Linked DNA regions of Homo sapiens. The protein of the gene in region 3 interacts with the protein of the main gene of each other region in a pairwise test. Each region holds a gene or a part of one and is shown on either strand. Other genes may lie near its edges.

Region 1 (4,443 bases), on a different chromosome or scaffold from region 3:
AGGAAAGTCTGCTCTTCATTGCTGAAGGCACTTGTTCTCGTGTCTGGGATGGCAAAGTAATACAACCACAAAACCAGAGACAGCAACTCAGGCTCTGAGTTTTACATTTAAAGGTAATTAATGGCTTTGATTAAAAATCTGTACAAAAATTATACATATTTCATTTCTCTTTTCATAGGTCAACACCTAAACCAAATGATTTTCCAGCTTTTACTTTATTGAGACTTGGGAAAAGAGCTGCCATGAGAAGGGAGCCTGCAGCTGGAGCCATGTGCCATAGCAGGTGGTGAGGATCAAATGGAATTGTCCTTGTTGCCTGCTCTAGTCCTTTCTAGCGGGGGGTTGGGCTGGGGGGGATTTGGGGCTACCAGGAAGGGCTCTAACCAGCAATGGTGGGTTCAGACCCAAATACATTAATTTGACACTATAGGACTCCCATCCAAAGGATGGGAAACGAGGGGCACAAAATGAGCATATTATTGGGCAATTGTGCACTCTGTAAAGCATTTATCTTTCTAAGAAGAATGCCTTTCTGCAAAGTGCTCAGACACATAAACAGTTCTGTTAATCACAGCTGCATCTACTCAGAGTTTCTAGGCTCCATTGACCCAGTCCAGTTTTAGAGGCTTTGCCCTGACACTGTCTCCTCTATCTTCACTGTAAATCTATGGGATCTCCAATGTCCTTTTGCAAAGGTAAAACTAGGCAGTGTGATGAAGGGCACCTCTCAGAGTCATGGGGCCAACTGTTGGCCAGCCTTGTGTAGGGCCAGCCTTTTCATCTCTTCTCCACTGAATGAGGCCTAATAATACTTCCCTGATACTACATCACTAGGGCTGATGGGACAAGCAGGCTGGAAGCTCCCAGGAGTGACGTATAGACTTGCAGCTGTTGCTAAAAGAGACGTCTGGGGAAAGTAGCCAGACGTGTGGGTGGGGTCATGTGGCCCAGTCAGGACAGCTGAGCAAGACTCTAGGTCAGTACTCACCAATATACTCATCCTGATCCACAAACCCATCCCCGTTCTTGTCGATGTCCTCCAGGGTTTCCTAGGAAGCAAAAGGTAAAACAGAATGCAAGATGGCCATGTGCTCTAAGAAGTCTGAGAATTCTATTGTCCTCATTTGTCCAGCTTTTACGGCTGAATGCTTGGTGACTTCTGGCTCATCGCCTTACTTCCCTGGGAACTAGTTTTTTATCTGTAAAAAACAGGCAATAGTTTCTGTTCCTAATCCCCCACCCCAGTTTCCAGAGCAGAATGCTTTCTTCAAAGCAAGCAAGATGTACCTGTAACCCCAGAGGTGCTCTGACGATATCAGGAGGCCCTGCCAGGCCAACTAACTCCACCATCCAGCCAAAACACCCACTGGGGAACATGCGAGAAACCCAGTGTGAGAACCACTGGATTAGATGACCACAAGAATAGACTCTAGTGCTAACAGGACTATGAATACTGAGTTGGTGTCAAGAGAAATGTGAAACAGTGGGCAACTAAAAAATAAAAGTATATCTGACTTTTTGATGTATTGTGCTCTGTATTTAGTATACTTGACCTCTTATTCAGTATTTTTTGATTGGGTCAATAATTAAATGAGTTTACTGTTCATTGGCACAGCAACTCAGAGGCATCCTGGGTCAAACCAAAGAGCCAACCTGAGAGCAGAGAGCCACTCCCAAAGGCTCGTAGTCTACTCGGGATCATTCACCACCTGCACTGTCCTCTGCCACATTAGCTAACACTACATGAATGTTGAGTGGTAAAGAGAAATGATTCTTGGAGCCACTGCCCAGTCCTTACAGTCATGGCAGTCAGGAGGATGAAGCATGAGTGGACCCTTCCACCACCTGGATAACTAAAACCATCCACAGCTCGTGTAAACAAAAGCTCTAGCCATCTGTTTCCCAGGATTGAAACAGTTGGAACTGGGTTGGTGCATCTGCCCAGGAAAACAGGTGATGGCATTTATTTAATTGTCATGGAAAATGAAGACATTTGGGACCCAACAAGACACTACGGAAAGCAACTACATTCTGAGGCCTTACAAGCATAGTCATTCCTCAAAGCCTAGGGCCTGATCCACCCACCCTCCAAAGACCCACCCGCTAAGGGTAGCATCTCTTCCAGCCATAATTTTTACTTTACATTTCCATACAGTTTTAACAATCCAATTCATTCCATTTCTGAGTCTTTTTCCAAGTCCCTTAAAATTGAAAAATGGGGCAGAGACTAGCTAGTTGCTCACTTAAGCCATTTGCTCTTTCTTTTTTTTTTTTTTGAGAAGGAGTCTCACCCTGTCGCCCAGGCTGGAGTGCAATGGCACGATCTCGGCTCACTGCAACCTCCGCCTCCTGGGTTTAAGCGATTCTCCTGCCTCAGCCTCCCAAGTAGCTGGGATTACAGGCACATGCCACCATGCCTGGCTAATTTTTTTTGTATCTTTAGTAGAGACAGCATTTCAACATATTGGCCAGGCTGGTTTCAAACTCCTGACCTCATGATCCGCCTGCCTCGGCCTCCCAAAGTGCTGGGATTACAGGCGTGAGCCACTGTGCCTGGGCCCCATTTACTCTTTCTAGGCACGTATCTAAACTGTATTTCCCAGCCTCTTCATATCTAGGAGGGACCAGTGGAACATACGTGAAGGGGATGTGTCATTCCCTGGCCGGAAGAGTAAACAAAGACTGTATCTTCTCATTCCCTCTCTTTTCCTTTGTCAGCCAGCTGGGTGTTGCCAGGATGACTTTGAAGCTACAAGATGGCAGAGCACAAGCAGGAGTGCTTAGAGGAGAACTGGGTACCCAACTGTGCTCAGAGAACAGCCCAGGAGGTCCATCTGGCTGGAACAAGCTTTGCTAGTGTTAAATGGCTACAACTGGGGGCTATCTGTTACAGCAGCCAGCCTGACCTGACTAATTTTCTGGGTAGACGGGGATTCCAACAAACTCTACTTCAGAGTCCTTCTCCAATTCCCTTCAGGCTGAAAAATCTTCTCTCTTTGGAAGAGACAAGATTTGGAGGCAGTTTTCTCCCTGGTCTCTTCCCAGCCCAGACTCTTCACTTATCTTACCAAAACCACAATTTCCTTCATATGTTCAAACTCTTCAGGATGCAGAAAGGCAGTGAACTCCTCCCGAGTAGCTGTCAGGTCACCATTGAGGTCTGCAGCTTTGAATCTTCTCTCATCACGTGGCAGCATCTTTTTAAAGGTGTGATGATCTGAAGAATCATGAAACTCTGCGGGGTTTCCTGCAGGATGTATGTATGCAGAAATGTTTTTAAACCGTGCGGTCAAGAAAGGCGTTTCCTGCCAGATCACTCATCCTGCATGCTCAAATGGTACATATAGGGAAAAAAGGTCCCGACCTACTGAGTTCTTTAAAACATTCTATGTCAGAATGCCTCTAATATCAGTCCCTTCAAGCCACCCCATAATCTAGGCCTCATGGCATATTAGGGGAATTACTGCAAGTGGTTAAGAGCGCAGGCTTTAGACTATATTACTGCCATACTTCTCTTTGCAGAACTCTACTTTCATCATCTCATTCTTAGATCTGGAACATACAGAGGCTCTTTGGTACCCAAAACATCTTGTCTCAACGCCGTGCCTGGCTTTCAAGATCTCCCCGATTCTGGCCGCGTGAGTGCATCTTTGGTTCTCCTTGGGCCTGTTTCTTTGCCAACCTCACCATGCACCCAGCAGGTCTGCACCCCGTGCCTCTGTAATCTCATTTCTCCTTCCTTCTCCCGATCTTGTTTGTCTTGGATCTAAACCCTTCCCATTACTGCATGCATTGCTGCATCTTTGCCCCTCCAGTTGACCCACCTTCTCCAAATATAAATCCATTCTCCAAGGCTCCAGTTTCCAAACCACCCACACCAGGAAGCCTTCCCTGACTGCTCCGGCCCACTCAATCCTTGCTATCCAGAATTAGGCAGCATTTTGAAAATATACCACAGACACACTTCCTTTCTGCTTTCTTCTCCGTGTGTGCATCTGAGACGAAGTTGAGATGGGGTCTCAATCTAAGGGATTTTTTTTATTAGCCCTCACAGCCCTTCCCTCCCACCTGTAACTTCATTCAGTGTAAGCAACTCAGTACATTCTGAGTTTACAGAGGAGGGTGTTATACAAGCAGGTTCTACTTAGGAGGCTGTGACATCTCCCTGAAGGGAGTGGATATGATAAGAGAAGAGAGAGTCTACAAAAAGCTTGTGATCTGGGCCCCCACTGTGTCATCGCTCCTGCAGCACCTCTTACCTAGGTAGTAACCATAGGTGGCTTGTTTGTATTCTTCCCAGGAAATTTTATCATCCTTGTCCCTATCATAATCCTTCCAGACTTTGGCGACATTATCAAAGATGTATCTTTTCTGCACCCGTTTGATCCAGGTTTTCAGCTCCTCAGTAGTGACAAAGCCATCCCCATCATTGTCGATTCGATC
Region 2 (4,443 bases), on a different chromosome or scaffold from region 3:
AGGCCCTTAAGATTAAAGCTAAGACAAGGGTGAAACATCAAACACAGAACTTACTTCTTCATCCTCCAATATATCGAATGTTTCATATTCAACACTGCAAAAAAGAGAAGACATTTTAACTGGAAATACAGTTAAATCAAAGTGTAAAACCTCTATGCATTTGATGTTTTTAAAATAATCAAGAAAACCGTTTCACTGCTAACAAAATGTACTACAGACCAATGGAAATGATTTTACTTCTTAATCTGTCTGGTACTACACAGAATTAGTCATTCCAACATATGACTTTATCTGGATTTTTCTCCGGACAATATTGGGTTAGACCAGGGGTGGGCAAACTTCTTCTTAAAGAGTCAGACACTAAACACTTCAGGCTTTACAGGCCAGACAGTCTCTGCTGCAACTGCTCAGTTCTGCTCTCTGCTGCAACTGTCAGCATAAAAGCAGCCACAGACAATGTATAAATGAAGGGATGTGGCTATGTGCCAATATAACTTTATTTACAAAAATGGGCAGCCAGCTGCAACTTGCCAACCCCTGGATCAGACCCACACCCCCATCTGCACGAGCCTTCATTAACTGAACACTCTTACCCACTTCTAATGTCTAACCCACCCCAGGCTGCTGCTTCTTAACCTCCTGGAAGCTGCCCGTGCAGCAGGATGTAGTAGTGCTCGTGGACGGAGGCTGGAGGGCTCAGCAGCCGGATAACAACCACGCTGCCAGCTCCCTCCACCTTAGCAAGAGACATGCTTTCCACACTTAAACTTATTTCAGAGAGGGTGCTGTTTTTAATGTACAAAAGGCCAATGAAAGCTTTGTGGCTTTATACCATACAATGAACATTACTTGTACAAAAAATGAAAAATCACTGCATGAATATCCAACTGTATCCACTCAGAGCGATTTCACCGTTAGGTGGTCAGGTATTAGCAAGCATGTATGCCTAAATCCTTGCAGGGTGCCTGAGGGTACAGGTGCAATTCCCAAAGGTGGCCAAAGAAAATGCTACATGTAAAAAAAACTGGACTTTCCATAAAACTGAAACCATCATAGGGAAATCTTGTTTATTTAGTAAACAAGTTCCCAAGGAAACTGTCTATGGTACAGGGAACAGTCAAAAAAACTAAATGACGGGATAAATCAGAAGCAATTACCAAAAAAGGAATGTTTGAAAGAAGAACAAAAAAAGACCCCAATGTAAACCTAATGCTTTTTAAAAACCCCAATGTAAGTCTTTGTTCAAGTTGAACTAAAGGTGGCAGATCTCTTAATACTGTGATAAAAACAATGAGTTATACAACTATTCATAAAGGATCCAGGAAGCACTGGGCCCAAGTGTATGTATGTGGAGTCCTAACAGCCAGTATACTTCCTAAAAGTTATTCATAAAGGGTACCTTTCAAACCTCAATATACACTTGGTTCTCAACCACTCATGCATGTGTATTTTGGCTACTAAAGGAAAAGATAAGAAATGAGAAAAAGTAAAAAGGAGTTTTCTCCACATACATTTGGCGCCCAGCAAGAGCATGGTCTGCTCGTGTTAAGCGAAGCTGAGGTCCTGGATGGCCTCACTCATCCTAGGGCCAATCACGCTTAGCAAGTCCAGAGCTGGGAGGTCATGCTCTCCCAAAGCATCCTCCTGCTCTCTGCGACAACAGGGTGCTTTCAATACAATGGAGATTAGACAGATATGGGACAGAAAGCCAAGTTACCAAGATGTTCCACCAAAGACACGAGCTGAGTCAGGCCCAGTGTGTCGGCTCAGAAGACACCTGAGGAACCTGGTACTGCTAGAGAGGGATGGACTGTGTGTGTCTCACTGTGGACCCGCAGCAGAGGGTCGACAAAGAAAGGGGAAAATCAAAAATGACCAAAAACAAGCCAGCCCCCACTGTATGGCCCAGGGCAGGGGTGAAGAAAGGAACAGGCTTGAAGTTACAATTACAATAAACTGACTATACTTGCTTCTATAAAATGTCATAGTAATCTAAAGACGACAACCACATCTTTTTTTTGAGACAGAGTCTCACTGTCACCCAGGTTGGAGTGCAGTGGCGTGGTTTCAGCTCACTGAAACCTCCACCTCCTGGGCTCAAGTGATTCTCCAGGCCTCAGCCTCCTGAGTGGCTGGGATTATAGGCGTGCGCCACCGCACCCGGCTAATTTTTGTATTTTTAGTAGAGGCGGGGTTTCACCATGTTCGCCAAGCTGGTCTCGAACTCCTGACCTCAAGTGATCCACTCACCTCAGCCTCCCAAAGTGCTGGGATTACAGGTGTGAGCCACTGTGCCTGGCCCTATATTCTTTTTATGTCCCTGAAATTGTATTCAACCTGTACTATTTAACTATTTTCAATAGATCTTTGAAGTATATCAAAGATTACTTGAAAGTAATTTATTTGAAGCTACAGTTAGAATACATGATTTTTAAAAGATACAATCATGAAATGAGAAATAAACAAAAATATCTGACAAACCCTATAGAACATGTGCTGTATATCTCCAAATAAGTGCTTTTGTTTTTAACCACAAAAATCAATGGCAATGTTCTTACCTGACAGCTTCACCACTGAGCACATCAAAACTAGGAGCACTGCAATTTAACTTGTGCTACCTCTCAGATCCAGGTAATGGACCTTAATATGTGCCCCTCAGCTTTCTGTACTGTTTAGCAACTAGGATATTTGAGAAAAATTAAAAACTACCTATAATATATTCCCCTGAAATATCTTTATGCATGGTGAGGACTCAGTTATACATTTTCCTCTGGGAAAGTAGACAAATAGTTATTCCAAAGGTGGCCTAAAGACCTCCTTTATGTTACTAATAGGTTGACACTGGCCAGAAAATACTATTTTGATCTAAGTTAAGGCATTCACAAAACAATACAGCAAAAAATAAAGAAAGATACAGATATGTATGGATATAGACATTACAACTGAAAAGTATCAGTGGCAGAACTGAAAAGTTGAAATATTTTTTTCTTTTTTTTGAGACAGGGTCTTGCTCTGTCACCCAGGCTGAGTGCAGTGGTGCAATCACGGCTCACTACAGCCTCACCTTCCAAGACTCCAGTGATCCTCCCACCTCAGTCTCTCAAGTAGCTAGGACCATAGATGTATGTGACCATGCCTGGCTAATTTTTTTATTTTTTGTGGCGATGGGGTCTCACTATGTTGTCCAGGCTGGTCTCGAACACCTGGGCTCAAGCAATATTCCTGTCTTAGCCTCCCAAAGTGCTAGGATTATAGACGTGAGCCACTACGCCTGGCCAGGTTGGAATTTTTTTAATACACCATTTGAAAACAACATTTACATACCCAGTACTATTTAGTATTTCCAGAATTTGTTTGCTGAATCCACATTTTGCTTCCTAAATGAAAAAAAATTTGCAAAGATTACAATTTTTGTATGACCCAAGCAGCATGGTTGTACCTAATACTCTTGTCAACCAGCACAGCACTTGTCCAGCATAGCTGCCACTACTTTCACTCAGCTCCCAGAGCTTCTGCTCATCCCCTCTTCAAGTACGAACCCATCTACACATCAACCCAGGCACACGTGACCCACAGACTTCCTTTTCCTTTGGTTTGTAACCACTTGAGATGACATGTGTTCCAACAGTTTATATTCTCTGTGGTCAAAAAGTTCCTCTAAGTGAAACCGAGATTTTCTACAGAGATTTGAGTTCATTGTTTAATTCACTCATGCAAAATGATCTTAACTCACTTAGCCTTTTTGCAATGATTATGACAATTATTTTCCCATTTCCAACTGGATTCTGACTCCCATTTTTCTTTTTATTTTATTTATTTATTTATTTATTTATTTATTTTTTGAGACAGAGTCTCACTCTGTCCCCAGGCTGGAGTGTGATCTCGGCTCACTGCAATGTCCACCTCCCAGGTTCAAGCGATTCTCCTGCCTCAGCCTCCCGAGTAGCTGGGACTATAGGCATGCGCCACCACGCCCAGCAAACTTTTTGTATTTTTAGTAAAGATGGGGTTTCACCATGTTAGCCAGGATGGTCTCGATCTCTTGACCTCGGACCTGCCTTGGCCTCCCAAAGTGCTGGGATTACAGGCATGAGCTACCGCATCCAGCCTCATTTATTTTTACATTACAGAATACTAACACTTTTTTGAGTTTATGAAAATCTTAAGCTTTTTTCATGCCACAGGACTCCAAATTCCAGCAATCTTGTGGAAAAGATATGGTACCATGTCAACATTTTAATAGCCCCAATAACATTGTTTCCAAAATGTATTAATACTTTCTAGGTTTCCAGAAAAAAATAGTTTTGAGAATAAATATCCACTTAAACCATTACCGAGAATAAGAAAAAATGTCACTTTATCATTACTAGGAATTATTAACTTCCTCTATTGTTTCAATACACTGAACCAAAATCAAAGAATTTAGGCCCTAACCTAATGTTT
Region 3 (4,443 bases):
CTCTGTAGCTTGGATCCTTTCAGTATTACATTAGTTTTTATGGTGCTCTTCCGTCTTTTCTCCTCTTTTCTTTTCTTTTTTTTTTTGAGACAGAGTCTCGCTCCGTTGCCCAGGCTGGAGTGCAGTGGTGCGTTCTCGGCTCACTGCAACCTCTGCCTCCCAGGTTCAAGCGATTCTCCTGCCTCAGCCTCCTGAGTAGCTGCTACTACAGGTGCGTGCCACCACGCCCAGCTAATTTTTTTGTATTTTTAGTAGAGACAGGGTTTCACCATGTTGGCCAGGATGGTCTCGATCTCTTGACCTCGTGATCTGCCCACCTCAGCCTCCCAAAGTGCTGGAATTACAGGCGTGAGCCACTGCACCCAGCCTTCTTCTTTTCATTATAACCTTTATACCACAGTAAGCTGTTGCATCATTCAAATGACTCTGCATCCTATATTGAATATTCTCCATTATTCTCTAATATCTTTGGGGGTACCCAGGATTACAGGGTTCTGGGCATACATGTTAATGCTTTTGCCAGGACTTTTCTTTTTATTGTTGTGACCCATTGTCTTTGCTTATATTTAAAGTTTTTGATCTTGATATCATTGGTTCTTTCCTAAGTCACTTTTTCTGGTAACTGCTTTGGAATGAATCATACATATCTCACTTACGGAGCCTTCCTCTTTCTCCTCCATTTTTCTTGTCTTCATTTTTCTATTTTAAAGCTTTTATTATGGAAATTTTCAGAGTACAGTGAGAGAGAGACTAGTATGATAAACCCACGTCGAAGTCGAAGTTACGGCTGAGAGCGGCAGCTCACACCTGTCTCCTAACTTTGACTTTTTTTTTTTTTTGAGATGGAGTCCCACTGTCGCCCAGGCTGGAGTGCAGTGGTGCGATCTCAGCTCACTGCAACCTCCGCCTCTCAGGTTCAAGCAATTTTCCTGCCTCAGTCTCCTGAATAGCTGGGATTGCAGGCACCCACTACCAAACCCGGCTAATTTTTGTATTTTTATTAGAGATAGGGTTTTACCCTGTTGGCCAGGCTAGTCTGGAACTCCTGACCTCAAGTGATCCACCCGCCTCAGCCTCCCAAAGTGCTGGGATTACAGGTGTGAGCTGCCGCACTTGGCCCTAACTTTGACAGTTAACTTTATGCCATGCTCAGTGGCCCATGCCTATAATCCCAGCACTTTCGGAGGTGGAGGCAAGTGGATTGCTTGAATCCAGGAGTTCAAGACCAGCCTGGGCAACATAAGACCCCTATCTCTACAAAAAATACAAAAAAAAATTAGCGGGACGTGGTGGCATGTGCCTGTGGTCCCAACTACTCGGGAGGCTGAAGTAGGAGGATCACCTAAGCCTGGGAGGTTGAGGCTACAGTGAGCAGTGACTGTGCCACTGTACTCCAGCCTGGGTGACAGAGTGAGACCCTGTCTCAAAAGACAAAAACACAATTAACTTTATACTGTTCTTGTTTTATCTCTTTCCTCCTTTTGTTGTTGTTGCTGTTTATGATGGAGTATTTCAAAGCAAATTGTAGGCATGTCATTTCTTCTGTATATATTTCAGTATATGCCTCTAACAAGATACAATATTAAAAACTATAATATCTTTACCACTTCAAACAAAGATAACAATAATTTATTGTATTCTCTAATAGTCTATGTTCTTTTTTTCCTCCCCCTCAAAAATATCTTATGGTTGGTTTGCTAGAGTCAGGATTCAAACAATGTCTGTATATTGCATTTGTTTAATACTTCTCTTAATTCTCTTTATAATAGTCCTTTTTTTTCAGTATGGTTATCTATTTAAGGAACTGGGTTTTTTGTTTTGTTTTGTTTTTGTTTTTGTTTTGAGACTGAGTCTCACTCTGTGGCCCAGGTCAAGAGTGCAGTGGCGTGATCTCGGCTCACTGCAACCTCTGCCTCCCAGGTTCAAGCAATTCTCCTGCCTCAAGTCTCCCAATTAGCTGGGATTACAGGCACCTGCCACCAAGCCCCACTAATTTTTGTATTTTTAGTAGAGACGGGCTTTTACCATGTTGGCCAGGCTGGTCCCAAACTCCTGACCTCAAGTGATCCACCCACCTCGGCCTCCCAAAGTGCTGGGATTACAGGCGTGAGCCACTGCGCCCGGCCAGGAATTGGGAGTTTTTGTCCTAAAGATTTTCCCACATTCTGGTTTTGGCTGATTGACTCCTTTTGTTAATATTAATTTCTCTATCCACTGTATTTCCTAAAAACTGGTAGTTACATTTAGAGGTTTGATTAGATTCAATTTTTCCCCCTTGGCAAGAATATTTCATAAATGGTGCTCTTGCTTCCTATTACATCTCATCAGGAGGCACATGACAATCAGTTGATCTTAAGATTGACTGGTAGGTTATGTAAAGGTTTTGGCAACCATTACTGATCATAGCCTAGATCTATTTTTCATTAAGGCCTGCAAAATGGTGATATCCTAATTCTCTTGTTCCCTCTGTGTTTATTATGATTTTTTTTTTTTTTGAGGTGGAGTCTTGCTATGTTGCCCAGGCTGGAGTGCAGTGGCACCATCTCGGCTCACTGCAACCTCTACCTCCCGAATTCAAGCGGTTCTTCTGCCTCAGCCTCCTGAGTAGCTGGGACCACAGGCAGGTGCCACCACGCCCGGCTGTATTTTTAGTAGAGACGGGGTTTCACCATGTTGGCTAGGCTGGTCTTGAACTCCTGACCTCAGGTGATCCACCCGCCTCAGCCTCCCAAACTGCTGGGATTACAGGCATGAGCCACTGCGCCCGGCCTAATTGTGATTCTTTTATACAAGAAATACTTCTCTCATCAACCATAGGGTTGCCCTGAAATCGTCATTTCAGGAAAACCATCTCGTTTTTCTTTTACCTAGTACACATTATTATTCGAGCAAGCCAACCCACAGCACCTAGCCTTTTCTTTTTTATATTTGAAACCTCAGAGCTTTTCTCTCCTGTATTGGTAAATATCTTTAAAATTCTCCACGTTACCCAAATAAATGCCAGATGTATGAAAATTTAATTCATTCAGCGGCTAGTTACCACATACCTAGTATGTGTGGGGCATTCTGCAGGGTACTAGTTATACAATAGTAAACAAAATATAGTCTCTGCCTCAAATAGCTTATAGGCAGAATTAGGACCTTCATAACTATATATATGGTGCTGGAGTTGCACTGTACAGTGAGGTTAGGATGGGAGAAGTGACCAATTAATCAACCGGCAATTTTTTTTTTTTTTTTAATTTTTTAGACGGAGTCTCACTCTGTTGCCCAGGCTGGAGTGCAGTGGCACAATCTCGGCCCACTGCAACCTCTACCTCCTGGGTTCAAGCAATTCTCATGTCTCAGACTCCTGAGTAGCTGGGATTACAGGCGGCCACCACCACACCCAGCTAATTTTTTGTATTTTTGATAGAGACGGGGTTTCATCATGTTGGCCAGGCTGGTCTCAAACTCCTGACCTTAGGTGATCCACCCGCCTCGGCCTCCCAAAGTGCTGGGATTACAGGCATGAGCCACTGCGCCCAGCCTAAACTGGCAGTTTTTAAGTGTAGTACGTTCCAGTCTTGGGAGAAGTCAGAGAATATGTTTTAGAGTTTAAGTTGAGATGGGAGGGATGAATAGACATCATCTTGATGGAGAAGTAGGAGTTGGAAGAATATAACAGGCAGAAGGACAGCAGTGTGTACAAAGGTAGAAGGTAAGGGAGTAGAGGGCCTCTGTGGAACTGTAAATAGGGTTGAGTGTGATGGGACATGGGATGAAGAGATGGGCTGGAGAGGAAAATTGAGAGCTGGAAAGATAAGCTAGTCTCTTGAAAGGTCTTACAAGGCATGATTTTATCCTGGGGGCACTGAAGAACCACTGCATGGTTTGAAGTAGGGTATGACGTGATCAGATTTGTGTATTCAGAATATCCAGTAATAGTACATTTGTTCCCTAGAACCTAGGCACAAGTCTTGGAATTGGCCTCAGAGCATCCATGTATAATAGGTGCTGCCCACTTACAGCCTCAGGGAGACAGCATAACACAGGCTGCCTAAAAAACGAAAGACCTGGGTGTGGTGGATCATGTCTATAATCCCAGCACTTTTGGAAGCTAAGGTGGGAGGATCACTTGAGGCCAGAAGTTCGAGACAAGCCTGGACAACAGAGCAAGATCCTGTCTCTACAAAAAGTTTTTTAAAAAATTATCCAGGCATAGTGGTGCATACCTGTAGTCCCAGCTACTCCAGAGGCTGAGGCAGGAGGATCAACTTGAGCCCAGGAGTTCGAGGCTGCAGTGAACTATGATTGTCCCACTGCACTCCAGCCTGGGAGAGATCCTATCCCAAAAATCAAACAAAAAAAGGAAGTATGGTCTTCACTCCAGGAAGGCACAAAACCCAGTTTCATAATGGAAGCCCAAAACACTTAGAAAAATATTAACAACACAAAAGGGAA
Region 4 (4,443 bases), on a different chromosome or scaffold from region 3:
AAACATCACATGGAAAATTTAGGCATTAAGACCTGAATTAAGTTTAAAATTTCAGTTTCTAGGCAGGTATGACACCATTTCTTTCAAGATAAATATCATAATGGTGAGTGAAGATTTTTACATTTCCCAGTGGATTTTCTGACAGTCAATAGGGAAAAAACTATTCTGCATCATTTCATATTTTAAATTTTGTCTTCATTTCTGAAGAAAAAGACCTGAGTGCTGATTCTTTTTTTTTTTTCAATTTCTTAAACTTTCACAACATTCAGAAGTTTTTCTGCATTGTGTCTTCTCTGATGTCTAAAAAGATTTGAGCTTTGACTATACGATTTCCCACACTGAACGCATTCATAAGGTTTCTCCCCAGTATGGATTCTCTGATGATTAATAAGCCCCGAATTCTGGCTAAAGGCTTTCCCACATTCAAGACATTTGTAAGGTTTTTCTCCAGTGTGGACTCTCTGGTGTTGCACAAGAATGGAACTTCGGCTGAATGCTTTCCCACACTCAACACATCCATAAGGTTTCTCCCCACTGTGAATTCTTTGATGAAGAATAAGGGCTGAGCCCTGACTGAAGTGTTTTCCACATTCATCACATATATGTTGTTTCTTTCGAGAGGGATTTCTCTTTCTTTCAAACCTGCCCTTGGGGAAACAGGTTTCTCCATATTTAAAAATTTGAGGAACACCCATATTGAGAGTGCCAGGAACTTCATGGGATTCTAATGCTGAAGGAAGCTCCTGCTTTGGAGCTAGTGCTCCATTTTCAGTCCTACCATCATCATCTGAAATAAACAGAAAATGTAAATATCATTCATTATCTATTAAGGGAAAAGAAACCTAAAAAAAATTTTTTTTTTAATGAACTAAAATAGCTAGCACACATCTATAAACCACTCTGACACTGGTGTTAAGGCCTATTCTCAAAAAAGAAAAAATGAAATTACTCTGAATAACAGTATAACATCATGATATAAGGGATATCTGAATAAAACATAGGCAAGTGGTTTACAAATGGTAGTCAGAAAACAAAGGTCAGAAAGATGGTAGATTCTAAGATGGTTAGGGAGATAGTCAAAATGATGTGGCTAGGTATGGATGAAACTTTGTAAGAATAAAAATAAAATAAAATTGGCCACTAGGAAATCATTATAATGTTCTTTTACTTTGAGAAAGGGAGAAATTACATCAAAATACAAAGATGTAAATTAGAAAAACATGTCAGAAAGTGGCTATTTCTGAAATGAACAAGCCAAGTCAGGTCACAGCCAATGTTAGCCTAAAAGCAGAACACAGGAGTCTTGACAAGAAGGGGCTGAAGATAAGCTGGGGGCCTCCTGTGTTAACCAAAGACATGACATAAAAATTCAGTATGCCCCTAATAAATGAAAGTTTTCCAATAAAAGCAGCTTCTCCCATGTGGTATTTGTCATGGTACTTAGAAAAATCGTTATTTCTAAGCCTCAGTGAAACGTGTCCAATGAAAGAAAAGCCTGAATTACCAACATGGGTTAGCATCACTCACACGCAGGCAGAGATAACAGCAAGTGTCATTTAAGACTTTTCTAAAACTTCATGCCTTAAGGAGTAAAGATCCAGTTCATATAGGGTTAGCAACTGCCTTCAGCGAAGAGGAAAACAGTAAATAATTAACAAAAAGATCAAGTCAGGAGATAAGGCTAAGAGAGAGAGACTGAAAGGTTAGAGGAGGATAGTGAGGCTTGGAGACTTGAAAAACAGAGGAGCGTGAAGATTAAGTGGAGACAAACGGCACACAGGAAACAGAAATTCCCAAGTGTGGAAGAGACTAGACAGCTGAAATAAGGAACGCAGGTGAAAAGTCACTCTAAAATTCAGATGATGAGAAGTTGAAAATATCAGCCCCATATATCAAGAATGATACTTCTCAAACTTTATTGCACAGAAGAATGTCCCATGAAACATGTAAAACTGCAGATTTTCAGCAGACTTCAGCCCCACCCCAAAAGTTGACTGGCTGGCACTGTCCCCTCAGATGTGAAGAAAACCTGCTCAGACCTCATTCAGTGGCATACCAGCACCATCTCCAACTACTTCAAGGAATGATTACTAAAGCAGAGTCAAACAAAATTTCATTTTAGTTCACATAAACATGAGAAAGCAATCTAGCAGTTTTAGGAATATACTGGGCCATATCAAAGGATACACATAAGTATATGGTGTTAATGGCTAATATATTGGGAAAGACTGGTCTCGTGAATTAATACAACTTTGAGCTTTTAAAAAAGATTTTTCTGCATTTAAAGCATGTTATAGCTAAGGAGGCTTTTTTTGCATAAATACTTAGAAAAAGGAAAAAAATTACTCCAAATATTTCTACAAAAGAAGCTTCTTAGAAGAAAATGACTCTAGGTAGACGTTGAAGGAAATCAGAAATAAATATTTAGAAAGATTTCAGTGATATACAACAAAGAGATTAGAAGAGGTTTTCAGGTAAGCTTACTGTACCAATGGAATTAGGCAGGAGATTGAAAGTAAAAGGATGTAAAACAGATGACAAGTAATACTGAATGCAAAATAGAGGGACTTGGTCCATGGGTGGGTGCTGGCTCAAAGTAAGGCAAATGCTAGCCTGACATGGGCAACTCTTTTTAGGAAGGAGACTGAAAGGGAAGAAAAGGCTGAAGATGTTAATGTCTAGGAATAAAAGGTCTGAGGCCAGCAAAATCAACTTAATCAGAAAAAAACTGAGATATTAGATTAAGAGTGATATGATCCCCCCACCAGTGAGAACAAGCAAAGTTCTGAACAAAAGGCCTATACTCTCTTTCACCCTCTAGCCCACACAGAGTTCTGGTCCTCACCACAGTGCCTTAGGGAATGGAGCTCCCAGGATGCCCACTTGAGCTGGTTCTCCACAGCATCAAGCTCAGAACTTGGTAATCCCTGAGCTTCTTCTTGAGATACCATGTCTTCTACTAGTACTTCCCGTTTTCGTCGACGGAGAGAAACCTGGAAACAGAAAGATTTGATTCAGAGAAGGAACTGTAATGAGAATCAGAACTAAAAACACGTAAGAGAAACCCCATGAAACAAATACTGCAGAAGCCTAGATGGCAAAGCGGCACAGATAACAAGGAGTGGTAGGGGAATGGGGGAAAAGGCATAAACATAATTCTAACTTAGTTGAGTGGAATTAATTCAGCAGCTTTGCCTACTACCTATGCCAGTGCTTCTGACACAGGAAATGACACAAGCAGGCTCACCGGTTGTCCAGGGTCATCAAGTTCACTCTCCAAATCCTCCAGCACTGTCACTGCCTCCTCTCCATTCTCTGGATGATGATCTCGAACCCAAGTCTGTAGCTCTTTGGGTAGGATGGCAACAAACTGCTCCAGCACTACCAGCTCCAAGATTTGTTCTTTTGTGTGCGTCTCTGGCCTGAGCCACAGACGGCAAAGTTCTCGGAGCTGGCTCACAGCCTCACGGGGCCCAGGTGAATCCTGGTATCCAAACTGCCTGAATCGCTGTCGGAAAATCTCTGGGTCTGGGAGATGGTTCCAGGGGATACTTGATCCCTCTTCGCCATCAGGATCCTCCTCCAACTTCACTCTCAGAATTTTTTCCTCTTCATCTGGAGTTGGGATGATAAGTATTGAATCTTCTTCCACTGACTGTGCAGACATTCTGATTTATAATATTTCAAGAAAAGACAACTGAGGCAGAATATAAGCCTCAGGGCAATACCCCGTTTTCTTCACAGGCACTCCTGAGGCATAAGAAATAAAAGATATATAAATAAGCAAAAATATCCTAAGAATTTGAACTTATACTGGTAAAAGTAAAAGATACTTGTTCTTTGAGTTAAAAATTCCAATCAATAACCTACACCAGGAATTGGCAAACTACAGCTTCACGGCCAAATCTAGCCTGCCACCCATTTCTGTACAACACTTGCACCAACAATAATTTTCACATTTTTAAATGGCTGTGGTCTTCATCACAGTGCCTTACGGAGCGGAGATCCCTAAAATCAAATGAATACCTAATGATATTTAGGGAATGGAGCTCCCCAAAATCAAATGAATACCTCATGACACGTGAAAATGATATGAAATTAACATGACTGTGTCCATAAATAATTGTACTTACTCATACTTCACGCTACAATAGCAGAGTTGAGTAGTTTCAACAGACTAGATGGCCTAAAAAAAACCCAACACAGTCATGCACTACAAAATGATGTTTGGGTCAATGAAGGACCACCTAGATGACAGTGCTCCCATAAGATTATAATGGAGCTGAAAAATTCAAGATTCACCTAGTGACACTGTAGCTGTTGTAAGGTCAATACATTACTCACATGTTTGTGGTGATGCTGGTGTAAACAAACCTGCTGTGTTGCCAGTTTAACACATACAGTTATGTATGGTACATAAAACTTGATAACAATAATAAACGA
Region 5 (4,443 bases), on a different chromosome or scaffold from region 3:
CAGGAAATTTAGAATCATAGTAGAAGGCAAAGGGGAAGCAAGCATCTTCTTCACATAGTGGCAGGAGAGAGAGAGAGCAAGAGGGAAGTGCCACATACTTTTAAACCATCAGATCTCGTGAGAACTCACCCACTATCATGAGAACAGCATGGGAGAAATTCCCCCCATGATCCAATCACCTCCCACTAGGCCCCTCCCCCAACACATGGGGATTACCATTCCACATGAGATTTGGGTGGGGACACAGAGCCAAACCGTATCAGGGGCTTTGATTATATCTGTAAAATACCTTCATGGCAACACCTACATTAGTGAGGACTACAGTCTAGTCGAATGGGCACATCAATAAATTCATCACACTTTTCTTATAAACAGCTGTATAACATTCCATAATATTATGTAATAACCACAGTCATCTCTTGGTATGCACGGGATATTGGTTCCAGGACTCCCGTGCATATCAAAATCCATGGATGCTCAAATCCCTTATATAAAATGATATAGTATTTACATATAACCTATGTACATCCTCCATATACTTTCAATCATTTCTAGATTATTTATAATACCTAACACAATGTAAATGCTATGTAAATAATTGTTATACTGTATTGTTTAGGGAATAAAAACAAGGCAAAAATCCATATGTGTTCAGTAAAGAAGCAACCAGCCGCTTTTTTCTGCATATTTTTGATCCACAGTTGATTGAATCCAGATGTGGAACCCATGGTTACAGAGGGCTGACTGTTCGTTTTTTGCTAGACATTCATTTTATATTTAGCTTTATTTCCCACTACAGATATTGCTGCAATAAATATCCATGTACGTATCTGATTGTTACTTACTGATGCTTTTATTCCTGTAGGATCTGTACCCTAAAGTGGAATGACTGAATGTTAGGATGTGAACAGTTTTAATACATACTTGCATATTAAATTCTGAAAGATTTGTAGAATCTATACTCCTAGCATAATTTTATGAGTACCCACTTCCGCATAGCCTCACCAGCACTGGATAGTATCTATTTGTTTCAGTTTGCCATTTCTCAACTAGTAAATTGAAAAAAAGTGTTGGAACCTTTTTTTTTTCATATGCTTAATGGCTATTTTCATTTCTTTTGTGAATTGCCTCATACCCTTTACTCATTCTTTTAACATAAATTTGGAAGGACTCTATATTGTTGATGTGACACTTTGTCAGTCACGAATTTCACGTTTTCACCAGTCTGTTTTTTGTCTTTTGAGTTTGTTTATATTGCCTACTTCTATAAATATTTAAATTTTTACTTTGAAAAATGTATCTATTATTCCTTTTTTGGCCCCTAGTTTCATCTTGCTTAAGATCTCTTGCCATCCAAACTATAAAATTTCCTGATTAAAAATATATTTTTGGTTTATTTTTAGAACAGTAATCCATCCGGAATTTACATTTTTATATGATGTGAGAAAGGGGACCTCATTTTTTTCTTCAAGGTGGATAGTCAGTTGCATCTGCATCATTTATTAAATAAATCATTTATTTTCCACACAGTTTAAATGCCATTTTTCATATATAGTAACTCTGCATATATACTTAGATGTGTTTTTAAACTTTCTATTCTGTTCCACTCTTCTGTTTGTCATTTCTTGTATCAAGACTATGCTGTTTCAATTACAGTAGATTTTGAGAAAGATTTAATGCCTGGTACAATCAATTCTTATTCACTCTTATCATTGCTTCTTAGCAGTTCTTAGATGTTTATTCTTTGATATGAATATCAAATTTATTTATTCTAGGTTTAAAAACACTGCCGTAAAAACTGGCATAGAAAGCCCATTTGGATTCTGATTGGCATTATATTAAATTTTTTAATATGTAACGGCTTGGCATTGTTATTAAGTTTTCACATTTAAGACAAGGCTCTGCTCTCCTTTCATCAAAATCTTGTTCTGTATGCTTCAGGAAAATGGTAGAGTTTTCTTTAGATTCTGTACATTTCTGCCTCTTTGTACATTACTTTTGATAATTTCTATTTTTCTGGGAAATTGTTCATTTCCTCTGGATTTTTAATTTAATGCTATATATCTACACATAATATTTTCTAATTATCATATCTTCCATAATTGTAGTTATCTCTCTTCTTTTGGGTTCATAATATTTCATATATTTTTATTTTCTCACTTTAATCTTTTAATCAGGCTTATCAGGGAGTATTGATCTTTTTTATGTATATATAATCATTATACATATTTTTAAGGTACATGTGATATTTTGATACCTGTATACAATGTGTAATGATCAAATCAGGGTAATTGCGATATTCATCACCTCAAATGCTCATCTTTTCTTTGTGTTGGGAACATTCCAAATATTTTTTTTAGCTATTTTGAGATATACAATAAATTATTATTAACTCTAATTTCCCTACTGTCCTATCACAAACTAAATCTTATTCCTTCTAACTGTGTTTTTGTACCTATTAACCAGCCCCTCTCCATTGACCTGAGCCTTTCTTTCTGAGCCACTGATAATCACCATTCTACTCTCTATCTTTATGAAATCCACCTTTCAGCTCCCATGTATGAGGGAAAATAATCTTATTTCACTTAACATAATATCCTCCAGTTCCATCCATGTTTCTGCAGATGACAGGATTTCATTTTTTTATGGCTGAATAATATAACATCGTGTATATATGCCACATTTCCTTTATACATTAATCCACTGATGGGCATTTAGGTTGATTTCATATTTTGGTTATTGTGAATAATGCTGTGATAAACATGAGAGCATAGATATTTCCTCGGTATATTGATATCCTTTCTTTTGGATACATACCCAGCAGTGGCATTGCTGGATTATATAGTAGTTCTATTTTTAATTTTTTTAGGAACTTTTCTACTGTTTTTCTATAATGGCTGTACTAATTTACATTTGGTCGTTTCAAAGAACGTGTTTTTGGTTTGTTTATCCCTTCTGCAGTTTATTTCTGTTTCTTCTTAATTTTCACTTTTATTTCCTTCTTTTTCCTACTTTCAGGATTTAAGGAATATTTTAGATCCTTTCCACTCTTTCATTGACTGAATACTTACTTTGTTTATTTTGATTTTTACAAAATCAGAAAATCATTTTAGACATGGGAGGGTGTATGTGTCGAGGAATTTGTCCATTTCTTCTAGATTTTCTAGTTTATTTGCGTAGAGGTGTTTATAGTATTCTCTGATGGTAGTTTGTATTTCTGTGGGATCAGTGGTGATATCCCCTTTATCATTTTTTATTGTGTCTATTTGATTCTTCTCTCTTTTCTTCTTTATTAGTCTTGCTAGTGGTCTATCAATTTTGTTGTTCTTTTCAAAAAACCAGCTCCTGGATTCATTGATTTTTTGAAGGGTTTTTTGTGTCTCTATTTCCTTCAGTTCTGCTCTGATCTTAGTTATTTCTTGCATTCTGCTACCTTTTGAATGTATTTGCTCTTGCTTCTCTAGTTCTTTTAATTGTGATGTTAGGGTGTCAATTTAAGATCTTTCCTGCTTTCTCTTGTGGGCATTTAGTGCTATAAATTTCCCTCTACACACTGCTTTGAATGTGTCCCAGAGATTCTGGTATGTTGTGTCTTTGTTCTCATTGGTTTCAAAGAACATCTTTATTTCTGCCTTCATTTCGTTATGTACCCAGTAGTCATTCAGGAGCAGGTTGTTCAGTTTCCATGTAGTTGAGCGGTTTTGAGTGAGTTTCTTAATCCTGAGTTCTAGTTTGATTTCACTGTGGTCTGAGAGACAGTTTGTTATAATTTCTGTTCTTTTACATTTGCTGAGGAGTGCTTTACTATGTGGTCAATTTTGGAATAGGTGTGGTGCTGAGAAGAATGTATATTCTGTTGATTTGGGGTGGAGAGTTCTGTAGATGTCTATTAGGTCTGCTTGGTGCAGAGCTGAGTTCAATTCCTGGATATCCTTGTTAACTTTTTGTCTCGTTGATCTGTCTAATGTTGACAGTGGGGTGTTAAAGTCTCCCATTATTATTGTGTGGGAGTCTAAGTCTCTTTGTAGATCTCTAAGGACTTGTTTTATGAATCTGGGTACTCCTGTATTGGGTGCATATATATTTAGGAGAGTTAGCTCTTCTTGTTGAATTGATGCCCTTACCATTATGTAATGGCCTTCTTTGTCTCTTTTGATCTTTGTTGGTTTAAAGTCTGTTTTAACCAAGACTAGGATTGCAACCCCTGCCTTTTTTTGTTTTCCATTTGCTTGGTAGATCTTCCTCCATCCCTTTATTTTGAGCCTATGTGTGTCTCTGCATGTGAGATGGGTTTCCTGAATACAGCACACTGATGGGTCTTGACTCTTTATCCAATGTGCCAGTCTGTGTCTTTTAGTTGGAGCATTTAGCCAATTTACATTTAAGGTTAGTATTGTTATGTGTGAATCTGATCCTGTCATTATGATCTTAGCTGGTTATTTT
Region 6 (4,443 bases), on a different chromosome or scaffold from region 3:
GAGTTGGCAAAGAAGACTGAGGAGCCACTACAGAGGCTACTGTTACTCTTTTGATTTTTAAAAATCAATTAAAATATAAGAATGCACAGAAACAGAGTGGGCCAGATTAGGCCCAGAGGCTACAGCTTACTGACCCTTTTTTCCTGATGAGCCTGGTGCTTAACTTAAAACAGACACTTGGTAAATTTTTGTGTAATGACTTAATATTGAATATGTTCTTATCCAGGTCAAATGTGCTTTTCTTGTGGTGCAGGGAGGTAATAAAGGTAGATTTTTCCTCTTAAAACCCTGAAAGCAAGAATTCATCCTTTTCTTTGGGTTTATTCTCTTTAGAAGTTAACTTTTAATTTATTAAAAGTCAGTGTGTGACCAGCCTGGACAACATAGCAAAACTTTGCCTCTATAAAAAATACAAAAATTAGCCGGGTTTGGTGGCGTGCATCTGTGGTCTCAGCTACTTGAGAAGCTGAGGTAGAAGGATAGCTTGAGCCCAGGAGGTGGAGATTGCAGTGAGCCAAGATTGTACACCTACACTCCAGTCTGGATGACAGAGCCGGGCCCTGTCTCAACAGCAACAATAACAAAATGTCAATGTAATATTTTGACCCACTCTCACGTGTCCAAAAGACTTTTAAATTTTTGTAAGGATATAATAATGTTATTCGGGCTGCAGAAAGGTAAACCAAATTTCTACGGATACATAGAATTTTGGGTATTGATTTTTATTAATACCTGAGAGTTTTAAAAACATACCTTTATGCTTTTGAGAATCCTAATTATTATCGTTATTATTTGCCCTTGAACTTTTGTATTTATTTGATCTTAGTTATCTAAGACCATGCTAGGTCTATGGTATATGGATGCTGCACTCATATTGGTAGAATATAATATGAGAGACAGTCTATAGACAAACATATTAATATATGATGACAATCTATGATATATACCATGAAGGAAGCTAACAAGCATAATGTTATGGATTAATTATGAAGGAAAGACAAGGATAAAGTGGTCAGAAAATGTATCTCTTGAGAAATATCATTTATGCCAAGACTTGAGCTATGTGAAGAGTTGAGTTGGGTGAGGCGTACCTAGGTAGAGTGATAGTATGTGTGACATGAAAGCTCAATATTTCCCAGGAGCTGAAAAATGTTTTAGATATAAATAAGGTAAGGTATTTACATTCAAGTAATCTCCAAATAACTAATTATGCAAACAGAGATTAGTATATATTGATTTTTCTTAAGATTAGACAGTCTATACTAAGAAATAATTCAAGGCATGGGGGTCAGAATTGATTCAGTTAAAAAAAATTGATTTCCAGTCTGTTCCACATTGATTGAAAACCATTCAGCTGAAATTGCAGTGGTATTATATGTATGGGTTGATAGGTGATTGACAATTGACTAATATAAATAATTGCTATACCAGAGACTATGTAGCACTAAACCTCAAATGTGCTGAAACAGTAATCAGAAGAAAATGATTCCTATGTAAACAGTTCAGTGAAATCTATAGCACAAAAATGTGGCAAACTAAGGTAACACCATGAGAGATAGCTTAGGCAAAAGAAGAATGGCTGGCAGAACTTGTGAGTTATTGAAGGAAGAAGACAGAACAGATTGAGGGGGAAAAGAGAGAAATGGAATAAGAGTAAGGGGAGAGGGAATGAGAATCTTCAGTTAGAGTAGAGGAGGAGGACAAGAGGAAGGAATTCAGGGAAAGGGGGAAGGGAGGATGCTAATATTTTAAGAGGAGCTTACTTTAGTAGTATAATTTTATATAGGGCAAAACCTTAGAAATGTCTACTTTTAGTCTTAGGAATAAATGTTATTATCTCATACCCATTGCCTAATCATATAAGCAGTTGACTATATCATTATCTCTTCTACTTCAAAATATTTGTTTTGCAGTCTTTCACTTTAAAAACTCAAAATGGAAAATTATATACTTTATTTTAATATTTACAAATATTTACAAATATTTATTTTTAAATAAAATGTATATACCATGTAGTATGTTGTATTTATTTACTCAATGTTCTTTTAAGTGTTTCAGGCTGCATGTACCAAGTAGTTCAGACGATTGGCTCGGATGGAAAAAATCTTCTGCAATTACTTCCAATTCCTAAGTCTTCTGGAAATCTTATACCACTAGTTCAATCTTCAGTCATGTCTGATGCTTTGAAAGGGAATACAGGAAAACCAGTTCAAGTTACTTTTCAGACTCAGATTTCCAGCTCTTCCACAAGTGCATCAGTTCAATTGCCCATTTTTCAGCCAGCCAGTTCTTCAAACTATTTTCTTACAAGAACAGTAGATACATCAGAAAAAGGTAGAGTTACTTCTGTGGGAACTGGAAATTTTTCTTCATCAGTTTCTAAAGTTCAGAGTCATGGTGTGAAAATTGATGGACTCACCATGCAAACATTTGCTGTTCCTCCCTCAACACAAAAAGACTCATCTTTTATTGTAGTTAATACCCAGAGTCTTCCAGTGACTGTGAAGTCTCCAGTTTTGCCTTCTGGGCATCATTTACAGATTCCAGCCCATGCTGAAGTGAAATCTGTACCAGCGTCATCATTGCCTCCTTCAGTGCAGCAAAAGATACTTGCAACTGCCACCACCAGTACCTCAGGAATGGTTGAGGCCTCCCAAATGCCAACCGTTATTTATGTATCTCCTGTAAATACAGTGAAAAATGTAGTTACCAAGAACTTTCAAAACATTTACCCAAAACCTGTTACAGAAATAGCAAAGCCAGTAATACTAAATACCACACAAATTCCAAAGAATGTTGCTACAGAGACACAATTGAAAGGTGGTCAGCATTCTCAAGCTGCTCCAGTGAAATGGATTTTCCAAGATAATCTACAGCCTTTTACGCCATCTCTTGTTCCTGTTAAGTCTTCAAATAATGTGGCTTCAAAGATTTTAAAAACTTTTGTAGATAGGAAAAATTTGGGAGATAATACTATAAATATGCCACCATTGAGTACCATCGATCCTAGTGGGACGCGATCCAAAAATATGCCTATTAAAGATAATGCTTTGGTTATGTTTAATGGGAAAGTCTATCTGTTGGCTAAAAAGGGGACAGATGTTCTGCCATCACAAATTGACCAACAGAATTCTGTTTCTCCTGATACTCCAGTAAGAAAAGACACGTTACAGACAGTGAGTTCAAGTCCAGTCACAGAAATATCCAGAGAGGTTGTAAATATTGTTTTGGCTAAAAGTAAATCTTCCCAGATGGAGACAAAATCACTTTCCAATACCCAGCTTGCTTCCATGGCCAATCTAAGGGCAGAGAAGAATAAAGTGGAGAAACCATCTCCTTCTACCACAAATCCACATATGAACCAATCCAGTAACTACTTAAAACAGAGTAAGACTTTATTCACAAATCCAATCTTTCCAGTTGGATTTAGTACAGGACACAATGCCCCCAGAAAAGTAACAGCCGTCATTTATGCTAGAAAAGGAAGTGTCCTCCAGAGCATAGAGAAAATAAGTTCCTCTGTTGATGCAACAACTGTTACTTCACAACAGTGTGTTTTCAGAGACCAAGAACCAAAGGTAATTTTCCCATGTCAGGGTGCTCTTTTTATATATCTATATAGAAAAGTTTGTTTTCTTAATTCTCAAAGTTATCTATGATACCTCTTTCCCCCACTGCCAACCCCATCACACACAGACTATACACATATGAGTATTTAAGTCAAAACTTCCATCTGAGCAAATTTGAGGAGGAGTACAGTTGGGTACAATCTTGTACAAAGGAGTACAGTCTTTCTCTTGAATCACTTGGCATGCCAAATCTTTAAAACAAAAAATTCACAGAGCAAAAAGGTTTAGAAGAGTTGGGGAAGGATAATGTGAATTCAAAGCTTAGTAAAAATATGTGAGTATATGTATATACATACATGTATATATGTATGTTCATATATAATAGCCTTTTTAGTATATGAGGAGATCAATATGCATGTAAAAGAGTTGGTTTTGGGGTTTTGTGGGGTTTTTTTGTGGTGGTGGTGGTGGTATACCATGGAAAAGGTGAGACAGGGCTAATCAATACCTTTCAGTAATTTGTGGAAATAAGATTTTATCAGCATCTTTGATGGGTTGATTTTTTTTTTGGTAGACAAATTTCATTTTCCTTTTTATTAGCTCTTTGTGACTCCTCAGCCAGTTACCCAACATGCCCACATAGTTACCTTTATGTTCGACTTAAGGTTTGTCTGTCTGTGTGCTTACTAGATATTTGTACCCATCTTTTCCTTGCTTACTTAGAGGTCTACTCAATAATGTCAGCATTTCTCCCCTTCAGTACAGAATTCATTGAACTCCAGAGATGTAAGGAGGTAAATTCTGATTGTTCAATACAAGATCGATTAAAGGCATGTGTGACTTTTCCAGAAGACTACAATTTCTAAATAATGTC
Region 7 (4,443 bases), on a different chromosome or scaffold from region 3:
CAGAAATAATAGGAAAATAGCAGGTGGCAGTCACTTGTAGTAGGATTTATTTAGTTTCTGTTTTGAGAAGATGTAGTCTTTTAGGTATACCATTAAGTCTTTAAATTACTCCCTTAATTCCACCCGCCAATTCTAATGCTTACATGTTCCAGCCCCACTCCCGGCTCACACTCTTAGGCAGAAATTCATTGCTCCTGTAAATTAAGTAATAATTAATACCGCTAATGAGAAATCTGGGAGTACAGGAGGTGATTTTAAAAAATGCTCGTATTTCCTTTGATTAGAGTAGCAATTGTTAGGGATACATGAGCCAGATTTGGTTTTATGTAAAAAAAATCTTTCAGTTGATGAGTTCTTGTTTAAATTGTATTGCTGTGGCAATTTCTTATTGTAATAATATGTAGGAGAATTTCTAATTTGAATCCCTTTATTTACAGAAAGCTCACTGTAAATTTGTAGGAATGTCATGGTACTACCCCATTAAGTTATTTTTATTAGTGTTTAGTTATTGATTCAGCAGTCTCTAATTGTGCCAAAAATGGTGCTTAGATTAGATTGCCATTGCTACCCATGGGAGCTGCTACTTAATTATTCCCACCTCAAATTCCCAGCTCTCAAGTTAGCACTACTCCTTTGCAATTTACTCCTTCTCTGCTCGTATAAATACCCTCAGATGATGATAGTTGGTGGCCACTATACCTTTGAAGAGGTTGCCCACTTCTACATGGAAAGGAAAAGATGGTTTTTTTTTTTAAAAGATGAATTTGATAATTAACTTGCCACTATTTCACCTTGTGATGAAACCTCAATTTTAAACATAGTGTTAATTGTTTTATTGTCCACAGAATTAAGGGTAAGTAATGTCATACAATTTTTGTCTTTAGTCTTTTAGTATGGTTTCTTTAACTTCTATTGAGCTTCTGTTGCAGATATTGGACATGGGCGTATCTTCTAACGATGTCGTCACCATTAGTATATTCTTCCTGCTAAAAATAAATATCAAACCCTGAAGCCTGTATTGTCTCATGTTTTTGAAAATTGAAGAGAAGACTGTAACTTTATTCTGCTTTATACTTTCTCACTTATGATGATGGTCATTTGTCACTGTTTACAAAAACAGAATTTATATTTGAAGTGTAACTGTAGAAAATAGATCAGATGCCACTCCCCACAACCCCCTTTTCCCCCAGTGCCTTCCAGCCACATTTCATAGTTGACAGTCATAGATTATGAGGCTGATGATAATAATAATGTTAACATTCATGTGTCAGGTACTATTCTAGGCACTTCACATAAGCAACTCATTTAATCTTACACAGCAGGATGTATTATCCACATTTGATAGATACAGAACTGAGGCACAGGAAGATTAAGTAACTTGCCTAAGGTCACAAAGAGCTAGTGAGTTGTTTGGAACGCAGAGAATCTGCCTCCAGAGCCAGTGCACTTCATCAAAAAGACACATTGCTTCCTGTTTTTACTTAAATCTAAGATTAAAGCAAATGCTAAAGTCCTATTTTTTCCAACTTTTTCTGCTCCCTCTCTTCTCAGAGGTAATCACTGTCTTGAAATAAAGCCTTCTAGGAACTTTTTTTGTTGTTCTTCTGCATAACTGGATTTTATATTATAAAGAAGAAATCACCTCAATTATGTTCAGCTGTTTTTTAACAAGTAAATACTCTTTACAAGTACAGAAATAAACTTGAAAGTTATTCCACAGAACTCTTTGTAAATTATCACTTAGAACTATGTTATTCCTTTGTAGAAGATGTGGAAATGATTTGAGATATTTAGACTTTTTTGTACCAAGTAGGTGGCATCACTTTGAAGTTGAGACTGAGAGGTGAAGATTTATGTTTTCTGAATCAGCTGTGATACTATCAAGTAATTTTCATCTATTGTGTATCTTTGAACATTAACAGTGGTTGACCAGATACTGATGTGTCATTTGTTGCTGCATTTTTGATAATGGAACATAAATTTAAAGTATCAGTTCGGGAATTGGCCATTTCATATTTCTTAAGGAAGCCATTATTAAAGCATGTGTAATGAATGAAAACATGAAGTGGTTTAAAATTTGTGTTTTAAGACAATCATTATTTTTGAAACTTCTGACTATAGTTGGTTACTAAGCAGAAGCAGATAACTGTTGGGCCGGGTGTGGTGGTTCACGCCTGTAATCTCAGCACTTTGGGAAGCTGAGCTGGGTGAATCACTTGAGGTCAGGAGTTCAAGACCAGCCTGGCTGACATGGTGAAACCCCATCTCTACTTAAAAAAAAAAAAAAAAAAAAATTAACCAGGTGTGGTGGTGGGTGCCTGTAGTCCCAGCTACTTGGGAGGCTGAGGCAGCAGGATCACTTGAACCTGGGAGGTGGAGGTTGCAGTGAGCTGAGATCACACCACTGCCCTCCAGACTGGGCGACAGACCGAGACTCCATCACGCGCGTGCGCGTGCACACACACACACGAGATAACTGTTAAAATAGACTATTAATAACTTTAGTTTACATTTATAATATTTAGGGATTGCTATAGGAATCATTTTACCATTATGAAGTTGAAAGTATTGCATAAACTGTTTTTCAGTTAGCTTATTATCTTGGAAGGCATACATGAATAGGAGAATTAAAATGACATTTTGACTTTGACATTGTTTCCTAGTACATACAAAAGTTATGTTTACAACTTTACTGTTGTCTAAGTATTACAATTACACTTTACTGTTGTCTAAGCATTAGGATTACATATAAAATTACATATAAAAAATGTACGTATCTTAGTTAAAAATGCTTCATTGCTAAAAAAGACTAATCATCTGAGCCTTCTGTTAGTCATAGTCTTTGCTGGTGGAGGGTCTTGCCTTGATATTGATGGCTGTTGACTGATTAGGGTGGTGATTGCTGAAGGATGTGGCTATGGCAGTTTATTAACACAGTGATAAAGTTTGCTGCATCAGTTGACTTCTTTCTTGAAAGATTTCTCTGTAGGATGCAGTACATTTGATAGCATTTTGCCTACAGCAGAACTGCTTTCAAAATTAGAAGCAATTTTCTCAAGCCCTGCTACTGCTTTATCAAGTAAATCCTTTGTTGTCATTTCATCTCCACTGGGAGTAGATTCCATCTCAGGAAACCACTTTATTTGCCCATCCATAAGAAGCAACTCCTCACCAACAAGTTTTATGAGATTGGAGCAGTTCAGTCACATCTTCAGGCTCCACTTCTGTGTCTCGTTCTCTTGCTATTTGCAGCAGATCTACAGTTATTTTCACCACTGAAGTCTTGAACCCCACAAAGTCAGCCATGAGAATTGGAGTAAACTTCTTCCAAACTCCTGTTAATGTTGATATTTTATCTCCTCCCATGAATCATGAATGTTTTTAATGCCATCTAGAATTGTGAATCATTTTCTGAAAGTTTTCAGTTACTTTGCCGATATTCATCACAGGAATGACTATGGCAGCTATATAGCCTTACGAAATGTATTTCTTAAATAGTGAGACTTGAATGTCAAAATTGCTCTTTTATCTATAAGTGGCAGAACACGTGTTAGCAGGCATGAACACTAGTCACATTGTACATCTTCATCAGAGCTCTTGGGTGACCAGGTATGTTGTCAATAGTAATTTTTTATTATTGTTATTTTGGAGACAGTCTCTTGTTCTGTCACCCAGGCTGGAGTAGTCATGCAATCACAGCTCACTGTAACCTCGAACTCATGAGTACAAGTTATCTTCCTGCTTCAGCTTCCAAAGTAGCTAGGACTGCAGGTGTGTGCCACCATGCCTGGCTAATTTTTAAATGTTTTGTAAAGAAGAGTTCTTGCTGTGTTGCCCAGGCTAGTCTTGAACTCTTGGGTCAAGCAGTCCTCCCACCTGGGCCTCCCAAAGTGCTGTGACTACAGGTGGGAATCACTACATCTGGCCAATAGTAATATTTTGCAGGTCTCAACAGTTGGCTTAAAATACTCAGTAAACTATGCTGTAAATAGATGTATTGTCATCTATACTTGTTTCTTTTATAGAGCACAGGCAGAGTAAATTTAGCATAATTCTTAAGGACTCTAGAATTATTCAGAATGGTAAATGAACATTGGCCTCTACTTAAAGTCGTCAGCTACTTTAGCTCCTAATGAGGGCCAGCTTGTTTGTTGAAGCTTTGAAGGCAGGCATTTATTTCTCTCTAGCTATGAAAGTCCCAGGTGGCATCTTCTTCCAGTACCAGGCTCTTTTTTCTACATGGAAAATCTGTTGTTTAGTGTAGCCACCGTCATCAACGACCTTAGCTAGAGCCTCTGGGTAACTTGCTGCAGTTCTTAGTTCAGCCCTTGCTGCTTCACTCTGCACTTCGAAGTTACGGAGACAGCTTCTTTCCATAAACCAACCTCTGCTACTTTCAAACTTTGCTTCTGTAGCTTCTTTACCTCCCTCAGGCTTCATAGA

The links.
Region 1: the proteins of ZNF410 (region 3) and RCN1 interact in binary tests that used the Homo sapiens proteins (3 or more experiments, as listed by UniProt).
Region 2: the proteins of ZNF410 (region 3) and GLRX3 interact in binary tests that used the Homo sapiens proteins (3 or more experiments, as listed by UniProt).
Region 4: the proteins of ZNF410 (region 3) and ZNF24 interact in binary tests that used the Homo sapiens proteins (3 or more experiments, as listed by UniProt).
Region 5: the proteins of ZNF410 (region 3) and ARHGEF9 interact in binary tests that used the Homo sapiens proteins (3 or more experiments, as listed by UniProt).
Region 6: the proteins of ZNF410 (region 3) and LRIF1 interact in binary tests that used the Homo sapiens proteins (3 or more experiments, as listed by UniProt).
Region 7: the proteins of ZNF410 (region 3) and RPRD1A interact in binary tests that used the Homo sapiens proteins (3 or more experiments, as listed by UniProt).

The regions. Positions count from the first base shown.
Region 1 is NC_000011.10:32,097,154-32,101,596, reverse strand, and holds part of RCN1 (reticulocalbin-1 precursor), read right to left. Parts: coding exon 4,260-4,443; intron 3,248-4,259; coding exon 3,069-3,247; intron 1,050-3,068; coding exon 989-1,049; intron 1-988. UniProt on the Homo sapiens protein: May regulate calcium-dependent activities in the endoplasmic reticulum lumen or post-ER compartment.
Region 2 is NC_000010.11:130,170,518-130,174,960, reverse strand, and holds part of GLRX3 (glutaredoxin-3), read right to left. Parts: intron 3,378-4,443; coding exon 3,325-3,377; intron 95-3,324; coding exon 55-94; intron 1-54. UniProt on the Homo sapiens protein: Together with BOLA2, acts as a cytosolic iron-sulfur (Fe-S) cluster assembly factor that facilitates [2Fe-2S] cluster insertion into a subset of cytosolic proteins.
Region 3 is NC_000014.9:73,924,609-73,929,051, forward strand, and holds part of ZNF410 (zinc finger protein 410), read left to right. Parts: intron 1-93; coding exon of another isoform or gene 94-195; exon of another isoform or gene 196-211; intron 212-2,498; coding exon of another isoform or gene 2,499-2,620; intron 2,621-4,443. UniProt on the Homo sapiens protein: Transcription factor that binds to the sequence motif 5'-CATCCCATAATA-3', and is specifically required to silence expression of fetal hemoglobin in adult erythroid cells.
Region 4 is NC_000018.10:35,336,984-35,341,426, forward strand, and holds part of ZNF24 (zinc finger protein 24), read right to left. Parts: intron 3,751-4,443; 5' UTR 3,668-3,750; coding exon 3,248-3,667; intron 2,994-3,247; coding exon 2,846-2,993; intron 2,091-2,845; coding exon of another isoform or gene 2,077-2,090; exon of another isoform or gene 788-2,076; coding exon 249-787; 3' UTR 1-248. UniProt on the Homo sapiens protein: Transcription factor required for myelination of differentiated oligodendrocytes. Required for the conversion of oligodendrocytes from the premyelinating to the myelinating state.
Region 5 is NC_000023.11:63,648,551-63,652,993, reverse strand, and holds part of ARHGEF9 (rho guanine nucleotide exchange factor 9), read left to right. Parts: intron 1-4,443. UniProt on the Homo sapiens protein: Acts as a guanine nucleotide exchange factor (GEF) for CDC42. Promotes formation of GPHN clusters.
Region 6 is NC_000001.11:110,950,423-110,954,865, reverse strand, and holds part of LRIF1 (ligand-dependent nuclear receptor-interacting factor 1), read left to right. Parts: intron 1-2,050; coding exon 2,051-3,578; intron 3,579-4,443. UniProt on the Homo sapiens protein: Together with SMCHD1, involved in chromosome X inactivation in females by promoting the compaction of heterochromatin.
Region 7 is NC_000018.10:36,022,165-36,026,607, reverse strand, and holds part of RPRD1A (regulation of nuclear pre-mRNA domain-containing protein 1A), read left to right. Parts: intron 1-929; coding exon of another isoform or gene 930-1,010; exon of another isoform or gene 1,011-1,722; intron 1,723-4,443. UniProt on the Homo sapiens protein: Interacts with phosphorylated C-terminal heptapeptide repeat domain (CTD) of the largest RNA polymerase II subunit POLR2A, and participates in dephosphorylation of the CTD by RPAP2.